Linked DNA regions of Homo sapiens. The protein of the gene in region 1 purifies or fractionates together with the protein of each later gene. This does not show direct contact. Each region holds a gene or a part of one and is shown on either strand. Other genes may lie near its edges.

Region 1 (4,083 bases):
CTCGGCTCACTGCAACCTCCAACTCCTGGGTTCAAGTGGTTCTCCTGCCTCAGCCTCCCCGGTAGCTGGGATTACAGGCGCACATCACCATGCCCAGCTAATTTTTGTATTTTTAGTAGAGACGGGGTTTCACCATGTTGGCCAGGATGGTGTCAATCTACTGACCTCGTGATCCGCCTGCCTTGGCCTCCCAAAGTGTTGGGATTACAGGTGTGAGCCACCGCACTGACCTATATTTTGATTTCTAAGCCATTTGAGATAAATCTCTTACATCCTCATAGCACAACATACAGTTGTCACTATTTCCTGGTGCATTTTACACAAGTAAACGTCCTCGTCAGTGATGTAATGACTGCTGCTGTCAAACTATCTCAAATGTTCTTAAAAAAACACAAAAAACAAAAAAACCCAAAACCCATAATGGATGAACACAAAGCTAAAACAAGGGAACAACATTCCTTCTGTTTTCTTCCCACAGCACTCCCTTCTCCAGTTCCAGGTCTCCCTGGCATTAAAATGTAGAGTAAAGGCACAGGGCTTGCCAGCCCAAGCCAAAGGCAGGAATCCAAGCTTTCTCTAGGTCACAGGGTACCTGGGAAAACTCCCAGTGTCTGTCAGCTGGCATCAGGCACTGGGAGTTTTTATTATCAAGCTTTTTTATTAATGAGTTATTACTGATATCAATCCTCAGCTCAATAATAAAGTTGCTTTTCACTGGGTTTGTTTCAAGCCTGTTGCTGAGCTTTGGTACTCTGAAGTCCACAGATTTAATGAGAAGCAAAGAAAATCAATTTAACCCACTTTATTCAAAGAACCTTTTCATTACATTATTTTACTTCCTATGTTGACATATTTCCTACAACACATTTCCGGCTGTACAGTTTTTGCATTGCTATAAAAAATAGTGTTCTACATAGACTCCTTTTTTTGTTGTTTCCGCCTTTTTATTTTTAAGATATTCAGTATCAGTTTTATCTTATGTCAGGCAATTTCATTTTTAGCTTCTATAATGTATCACAAATGACCTTGATTCATTTCCTCATTTGATAAGTAAACATTTCACATTTTGATAATACATTTGTGAGAATACTTAATCACAAGTTCAGCTAGTGTTATGCTTTAAAATAATCACAAGGATTTTTAGTGTCCTTGTTAGTATACGGAAATTAAAATGCACTATCCCAATTTGGGGGCTTTAAGAGTTACTGCCTGTAGAAGCTGCAGTCTTTAGAGAATAAATTGTCTCCAGGCACTATATTTGCAATTCTTACTAAATTACCTGGTTGCCTGGATATCTCCCTGGCCCAGAGAGAAGAAAACCACCAATTTGCTCTTTTTCATAATCTCAAATCCAGAACCTACAAATAGAGTAATTGGTATGCAGATTCTTTGATGACTAGCTCTGCTCTTTGGAGAGCATGTTATGAGTATTTTAGCCTTTTCTTTTAAAAAGGTTAGATTTATTCATCCTTTGACTTCCTCCCACCAATCAGTAAATAAGCAAAAACAAGTAACATTTCAGTAAAATATCCAACAAATAAAATTTTATACCTATTGCCAATGAAAGTAATAAAGAATGTGGATAGTCCTTACGGAGTATGCACAGAGGGCCTCTGAGAAATTACAAAAGAATCCTGGAATCCTGTCAGGGGTATCCAATCTTTTGGCTTCCCTGGGCCACACTGGAAAAAGAAGAATTGTCTTGGGCCATACATAAAATACACTAACACAAATGATAGCTGATGAGCTAAAAAAAAAAAAAAAAACCAAAAACAACAACAAAAAAAAGGGTCGGTGCATAAATCTCATAATGTTTTAAGAAAGTTTATGAATTTGTGTTGGGCCGCATTCAAAGCCATCCTGGGCCAAGGGTTGGACAAGCTGGCTGTAATTACAATTGGATTGCAAAGGACTTGCTCCTTGGCCCTGTTAATCCAGTGAGCCAGAACTCAAATCATTTCTTTCTGCTGAATCATCAAGCCCAAGTTAACAATTGAACACTGCATCCTGAACTGAAAGGTGCAAAGGTGAAAGCAAGTTTAAACAATCCCAATGATTTTTCTCTTTGTTAAATGGCAGAAAACAACCAGTTGAGTATTTATCCTTTTGCAAAACCAGTTAACTGAATTCCAGTTATTTGTTCCAATTCAGAGTTCAGTTTTCATTGCACTTCATACTGAGTGGTTCTGTCACTGTTTCTTTTGACACAGAAGTAGGCCCAGTGAACTGACTACCATCGATACAGCTTGTTCTGTCAATGTCAAATCAGTCTTGAACCTGTCAATCCAAATTAATCAACAGTATTACTTTGGTGACAGGCAATCATATGTTTAATTAGTAACTCATGCTTCTGGCATGAAAACAGAGCTAGGGTTCTCAACTCTGGGCTGCAAAGCAAAATCAGGTAGCAGCTTTTAAAAAATACAGGTGCCTGACTTGTCCTAAGATGCTGATTCAGGAGATCTGGGGTAGGGCCCAAGTAACTATTTGGAAAAAGCTTTCCAAGTGACTCTAATGCAACAGGGGCAGAGACTGTCACAAAAGGTACTGATATAAATAATACATGATGGAAGGGGAAGTCTGTACTTCTTCAACAAGGACAGGAGGCATTGTGTCAAGGACTACTCAAAGTGCAAAGATGATTTCACATCTTTTTTTTTTTTTTTTTTTTTTTTGAGACAGGGTCTCGCTCTGTCACCCAGGCTAGAGTACAGTGGTGCAATCTTGGTTTACTGCAACATCTACCTCCCTGGCTCACACGATTCTCCCACCTCAGTCTCCCGAATAGCTGGGATTACAGGCATGTGCCACCACACCTGGATAATTTTTGTATTTTAGCAGAGATGGGGTTTCACCACATTGGCCAGGCTGGCCTCGAACTCCTGACCTCAGATGATCTGCCCACCTCGGCCTCCCAAAGTGCTGGGATTACAGGCATGAGCCATTGTGCCCAGCCCGTTTCACATCTTTCTGGAATGTCAATTTTACTTGACAGGTAAGCAGTTTAAAATGTCATTTTTATTTTGGGTGGTGATTTCATAGATATATATATATATAACTGTCAAAACTCATCTAACATTTAAAATCTGGACATTGAATTGTATCTTTATTATATCTCAATAAATGTCATTTTAAAATTAAAATATGGATACATTCTAGAGTATAATACAAAATCTGCATTTTCTTTTTAGATACACTCTGAGACTTGAAAGAAGTCACCCTCTGAGATGGGTCCCTGATATGGTTTGGTTATGTCCCCACTCAAATCTCATCTTGAATTATAGCTCCCATAATCCCTACATATCATGAGCGGTACCTGGTGGGAGGTAACTGAATCATTGGGGAGGGTTTTTCCCATGCTGTTCTTGTGATAGCAAATAAGTCTCAAGCTGTGATGGTTTTATAAATGGGAGTTTCCCTGCACACACTCTCTTGCCTGTCGCCATGTAAGACGTGCCTTTGCTCCTCCTTCATCTTCCACCATGATTGTGACGTCTCTCCAGCCATGTGGAACTGTGAATCTATTAAACCTCTTTTTCTTTATAAATTACCCAGTTTTGAGTATTTCTTCATAGCAGTATGAAAAGGGACTAACACAGAAAATTGGTAATGCAGAGAGTGGGGCACTACTGTAAAGACAGCCGAAACTGTGGAAATAACTTTGGAACTGGGTAACTGGCAGAAGTTGGAACAGTTTGGAGGGCTCAGAAGAAGATAGGAAAATGTGGGAAAGTCTGGAACTTCCTAGAGACTTGGAGGGCTCAGAAGACAGGAAAATGTGGGAAAGTTTGGAACCTCCTAGAGACTTATTGAATGGCTTTGACCAAAATGCTGATAGTGATATGGACAATAAAATTCAGGCTGAAGTGGTTTCTGATGGAGATGAGGAACTTATTCAGAGTTGGAGTAAAGGTCACTCTTGCTATGCAAAGAGACTAGTGGCATTTTGCCCCTGTCCTAGAGATCTGTGGAACTTTGAACTTGAGAGAGATGATTTAGGGTATCTGGCAGAAGAAATTTCTAAATGGCAAAGTGTTCCAGAGGAAGCAGAGCATACAAATTTGAAAAATCTGCAGACTGACG
Region 2 (4,083 bases), on another chromosome or scaffold:
TCAGACCCTGTGCCAGGCCTGGGGGCCCCCTCTGCCTGGTGCAGGGCAGCTCACAAAAGCTGGCAGAGGCCGAAGGCTGCGTGCCAGTATTCAGAATGCCACAGAGCGCCTGGCTGCTGTACCTTCAGAGCCTCCACAGGCACCCCAGTCAGAGTTCCGGGAGTGGATTCCTGAGGTCGCACTGCCAGGTTCCCTCACGTTGCCATCCTGCAGGCTTCTCGATCCTTGACCTTTTAGATTCCCGCCACACTGAATCTAAAAGGGACAATGTGACCTCTAAGCTGGTGGCCTAGGAGCCTGCCGATAACCTACCCATTCATCAGCCCTCGTGGGTCAAGGCTGCCTCGTCCTCCCCGAGAGAGTGGAGAGGTCGAGCAGTGGGGATGCCCCTCAGGCCCCGGGGCTTACTGACTGGGGCGGGTGTCAGGGGGAACTCCCTCTCTTTCTGAGCTCCACTGAGCTATCTGAAAGTCCCCACCATACTCCCCAGTACTGACAGCCAGAGGGAGGAACGGCTCACCAGAATCATTGGGCATCTCTGATGGGCATCAAGTCTGCTTTGATTATTGATGAGTGGGTAAGAGGGTCCTCTCAACTTGGGGTCTCCTTGGGAAAGCACTGTCAACTCAGAACAGGTTTCAGCCCTGTTCTGGAGACCACAGGCCCTGGAAGGCTGGGACATCATTTGCAGCCCCAGCGTCATCTATTAGACGGAGCCAGCAAGGTCTCATGCTGTGCGGTACATTTCAACACTTTCTCAAATTTACCCGTGGCAGCTTTTGGTGTGTTTGGTTATTTTTATAACACTACTCACTGTACAATTTCTGTCATGCACATTTTTTGTATCAAAAAGGGTGCTGTAACTTTAAAAGACTGGGTATTTCCAACTTGGAATATTCAAACCATCTTTTGCAAGGGATGTTTTAAATAGGCATGAAGGGTTGTTTTTAATTGAGGTTAAGGATCTGAAATGAGAGGTTTTGGTTTACCCTATCTATGGTATGTCTTAAAAATCAACGAAGATGTCCTTGTCTTTTTTGAATTTGCCGAGTGTGTTGCAGTTCCACAGCTCACTGTTAGGTGGCACATACCCCAAACTGAAAACCTGACCTCGTAGGGCATGAGTCAAAAGACAGGTAGGCACAGGACAGGGCAGTGGTGACACTACAGCTTTCAGGGTTCCCAGCCTGTCAAGAATGAGCATGTCTTAGCAGGGGAGGAACGCATGTGTGGGAACCGCCACAGAGTCCTACGTTAGGTATATGTTGCTAGTAGTTTGTTAAGATATTTGAGTTTGGGAATTTAATTATTTTTTCTTTTTTAAAGGTTTCCTCATGAGGACAAATACCTGATTTTGAATAAAGCAGCATTCAGTTGAAATAACCCTTTCTGTGGTAATTCCAAGTGAATATTTTTCTTCTAGGTGATGAGTTTCTACTTCCTCTGGTTTTTACAACAGGAAATGAAATGGTATCTAAAATAAACAAGCTGTGGTATGATGATTATTCATTTTCTGTCATTCTGTGCTTTTTATGAACTAGGGTGGGCTCTAGGTGAACATGGAGAATGGGCCAAATACAGCAATTTTGATGTTGCTACCCATGTTCCCCTGATATTCTATGTTCCTGGAAGGACGGCTTCACTTCCGGAGGCAGGCGAGAAGCTTTTCCCTTACCTCGACCCTTTTGATTCCGCCTCACAGTTGATGGAGCCAGGTATAAAATATGCTGAAATGATATTGCTTGACAGTAAGATCACCTTTAGTTTATATGTGAACCACTTTATTGAATCATAGGCTTTGGGGGTTACACAGACCCCCCCTTCCTGCCTTGTGTTGGAATTTCTTCTCAACATTTTGTGGTCAGCACACGCTTTCTGAACATCTCCCATACTCTGGGTGGGGAAAGAGTGACAGAACCAGAATTGACAAGTATGGCCCCTGTCCACAAGGAGCCTTGTGGGATGATGATGGACAAAGGAACAGGTGCATCCCCAAGATGGGGAGGGCTGTGGTACAGTCTACAAGAGCCTGCTCCAGAGCTTAGAGTAAGGGGCTGCCCCCGTAACAGACGAGGAGAATCCTTTCCCTCGATGCGCACTTTTGGTAGGGACTCAGCCTTCTTTGTGGGGGGCACATTTTCCATTTTGACAGCTCATCAATCTAGTGAACCACTAGATCTGTAAAATCTACCAGGTGATTCTACTCTGCCCTCCCCAGCAGTGAAGGGCAAGTTTACTTTGACTTCCATGTGCCAGTCCTTCAAAGCTTTGAAAACAGCACTGATGCCCCCGACCCTGTCCATCCACCAATATCTTCTCTTCTCTAGGCTGAAATCCCCAGCCCTTCAACCATTCGTCACAAGGTAGTGTTTAGACGCGTGGTTGTCCTGGTCTCTGTCTTCCAAAAAGTTTCAGTTTGAGAAAGCACTTCCAGAATACCAGTTGGACCAGATACCCCTCCTGGATGTGTGGGCAACCTGTATGGGTTCTTGTGAGTTCTATCCTGACTTGATCTGCCCAGTGCATTTCAGGGACAGGTTGTACACTGTCTCTGAAATGACGTATGACGTTTGCTCTTTTTGGAGTGCCTCTTCTATGAACTATGCTAAACCAGATTGCCCCCTTTCTGGACTTAAGCATTTAATCCATCCTTAACATCTAAATCTTGTACTGTATATTGATTCCTGTTTAAATTTGTCTTGGTTCTGGACCATCATTCGGGCCTTTCTGGATCTTTCTGAGCTTGCTTTATACTACCCAATTTTATTTTTTGCACTTTGATTTTTGTGCACTGCATGTCCTGTCTTCTTTCATGTCATTGATAGAAAGGTTAAACAGTTTCAAGGCATGATTTTAGCCCTTTGTTTGCTGGGAAAGATCTTCTGATTGGTTGAGAATCTTTTCTGAAACTTTTGTTGGGAAGTGTTCAGCAATTTAGAAATTGATGTAACTGCACGGCCTTTCAGTTTATTTCCAAATTTTATCTCTAGCTGTGTCTTTTCCCTGAACTTCAGACTTTTGTTTCCAATAGTCTTTCCCACTTAGCCAGCCTAACATATCCAAAGCTGGACTTCACATCTTTCATCTTCAGCTTTTCCTTCAACACTCTTCTTGTCCTCAAGAAATGAGAATAGTCACTCATGCCAAAAAATCATGGAATAATCTCAACCCCTGTTCTTCTCTTACTCCATATGCAATATTCAGTCTATGAGAAAGCCTGTCACACTCCATTCAGACTCTGTGTACCACTTCCCACCACTTCGCCTGCCACTGTCTTGGACCAGACTGCCACTGTCTTGTGCTGAAGTACTGCAAGAGCTTGCTAAATGGTCCCCTTGCTTGTGCCCTGGATCCCTTGGAGGTTTTCCTCCTCAGAGCAGCCACAGTGATTCCATTAAAACCCAAGTCAAGTCATGTCACAGCCCGGCACAGGAGCCTCTTATGTACCCTTCTTGATCTGAGTAAAAGTCGTCACAGTGGCCTTACATGTTCTGGCCCCATTATCTCCCTGACCTCATCTTTTTATAAGTATCCAGGCCAGTTGTCCTATAACAGTGTCCCACAGCCTGGATTTATCTGATTGCTTCCACATGACTACATTCAGGGTAACATTTTTGACACGTGTGCTACATGGGCTGTTGTATTCTCCCATTGTGTCACATGGTGGGGGCACTTCATGGCCAGCGTTACTAGTATTGTAAGTTTGAACACTCGGTTGAAGAGCTAGCTAGCATCAGCCAGATCTTGCCATTGTAAAGGTACCTTTTTCAACTTTCTTTACTTGTTTTCTTTTTATTTTACTTAAAAATTAAGTGTCTAGAAAATGAAATCAAGCATGATAAAGCACTGTCTTAAAGATCCAGAAGGGCCAGAATGGTAGTGCAAATCCAATTGCAATTTTAACAGGAATCAATATAAAGTACAGTATTTAGACTTTAAATATGGATGAACCGCAATGAAATACTACTTCATACCCACTAGGATGGCTATTAATAAAAAACAACAACAAAAGCTGTGAAAGGCTGGGCGTGGTGGCTCACGCCAGTAATCCCAGCACTTTGGGAGGCCAAGGTGGGCGGATCA

The links. The genes of interacting proteins can lie anywhere in the genome.
Region 2: the proteins of BTD (region 1) and IDS fractionate together in Homo sapiens (co-fractionation; one large-scale study listed by BioGRID). This does not show direct contact.

The regions. Positions count from the first base shown.
Region 1 is NC_000003.12:15,604,635-15,608,717, reverse strand, and holds part of BTD (biotinidase isoform 1 precursor), read right to left. Parts: intron 2,278-4,083; exon of another isoform or gene 788-2,277; intron 1-787. UniProt on the Homo sapiens protein: Catalytic release of biotin from biocytin, the product of biotin-dependent carboxylases degradation.
Region 2 is NC_000023.11:149,484,557-149,488,639, reverse strand, and holds part of IDS (iduronate 2-sulfatase isoform a preproprotein), read left to right. Parts: intron 1-1,326; coding exon of another isoform or gene 1,327-1,352; exon of another isoform or gene 1,353-1,509; intron 1,510-1,541; coding exon 1,542-1,715; intron 1,716-4,083. UniProt on the Homo sapiens protein: Lysosomal enzyme involved in the degradation pathway of dermatan sulfate and heparan sulfate.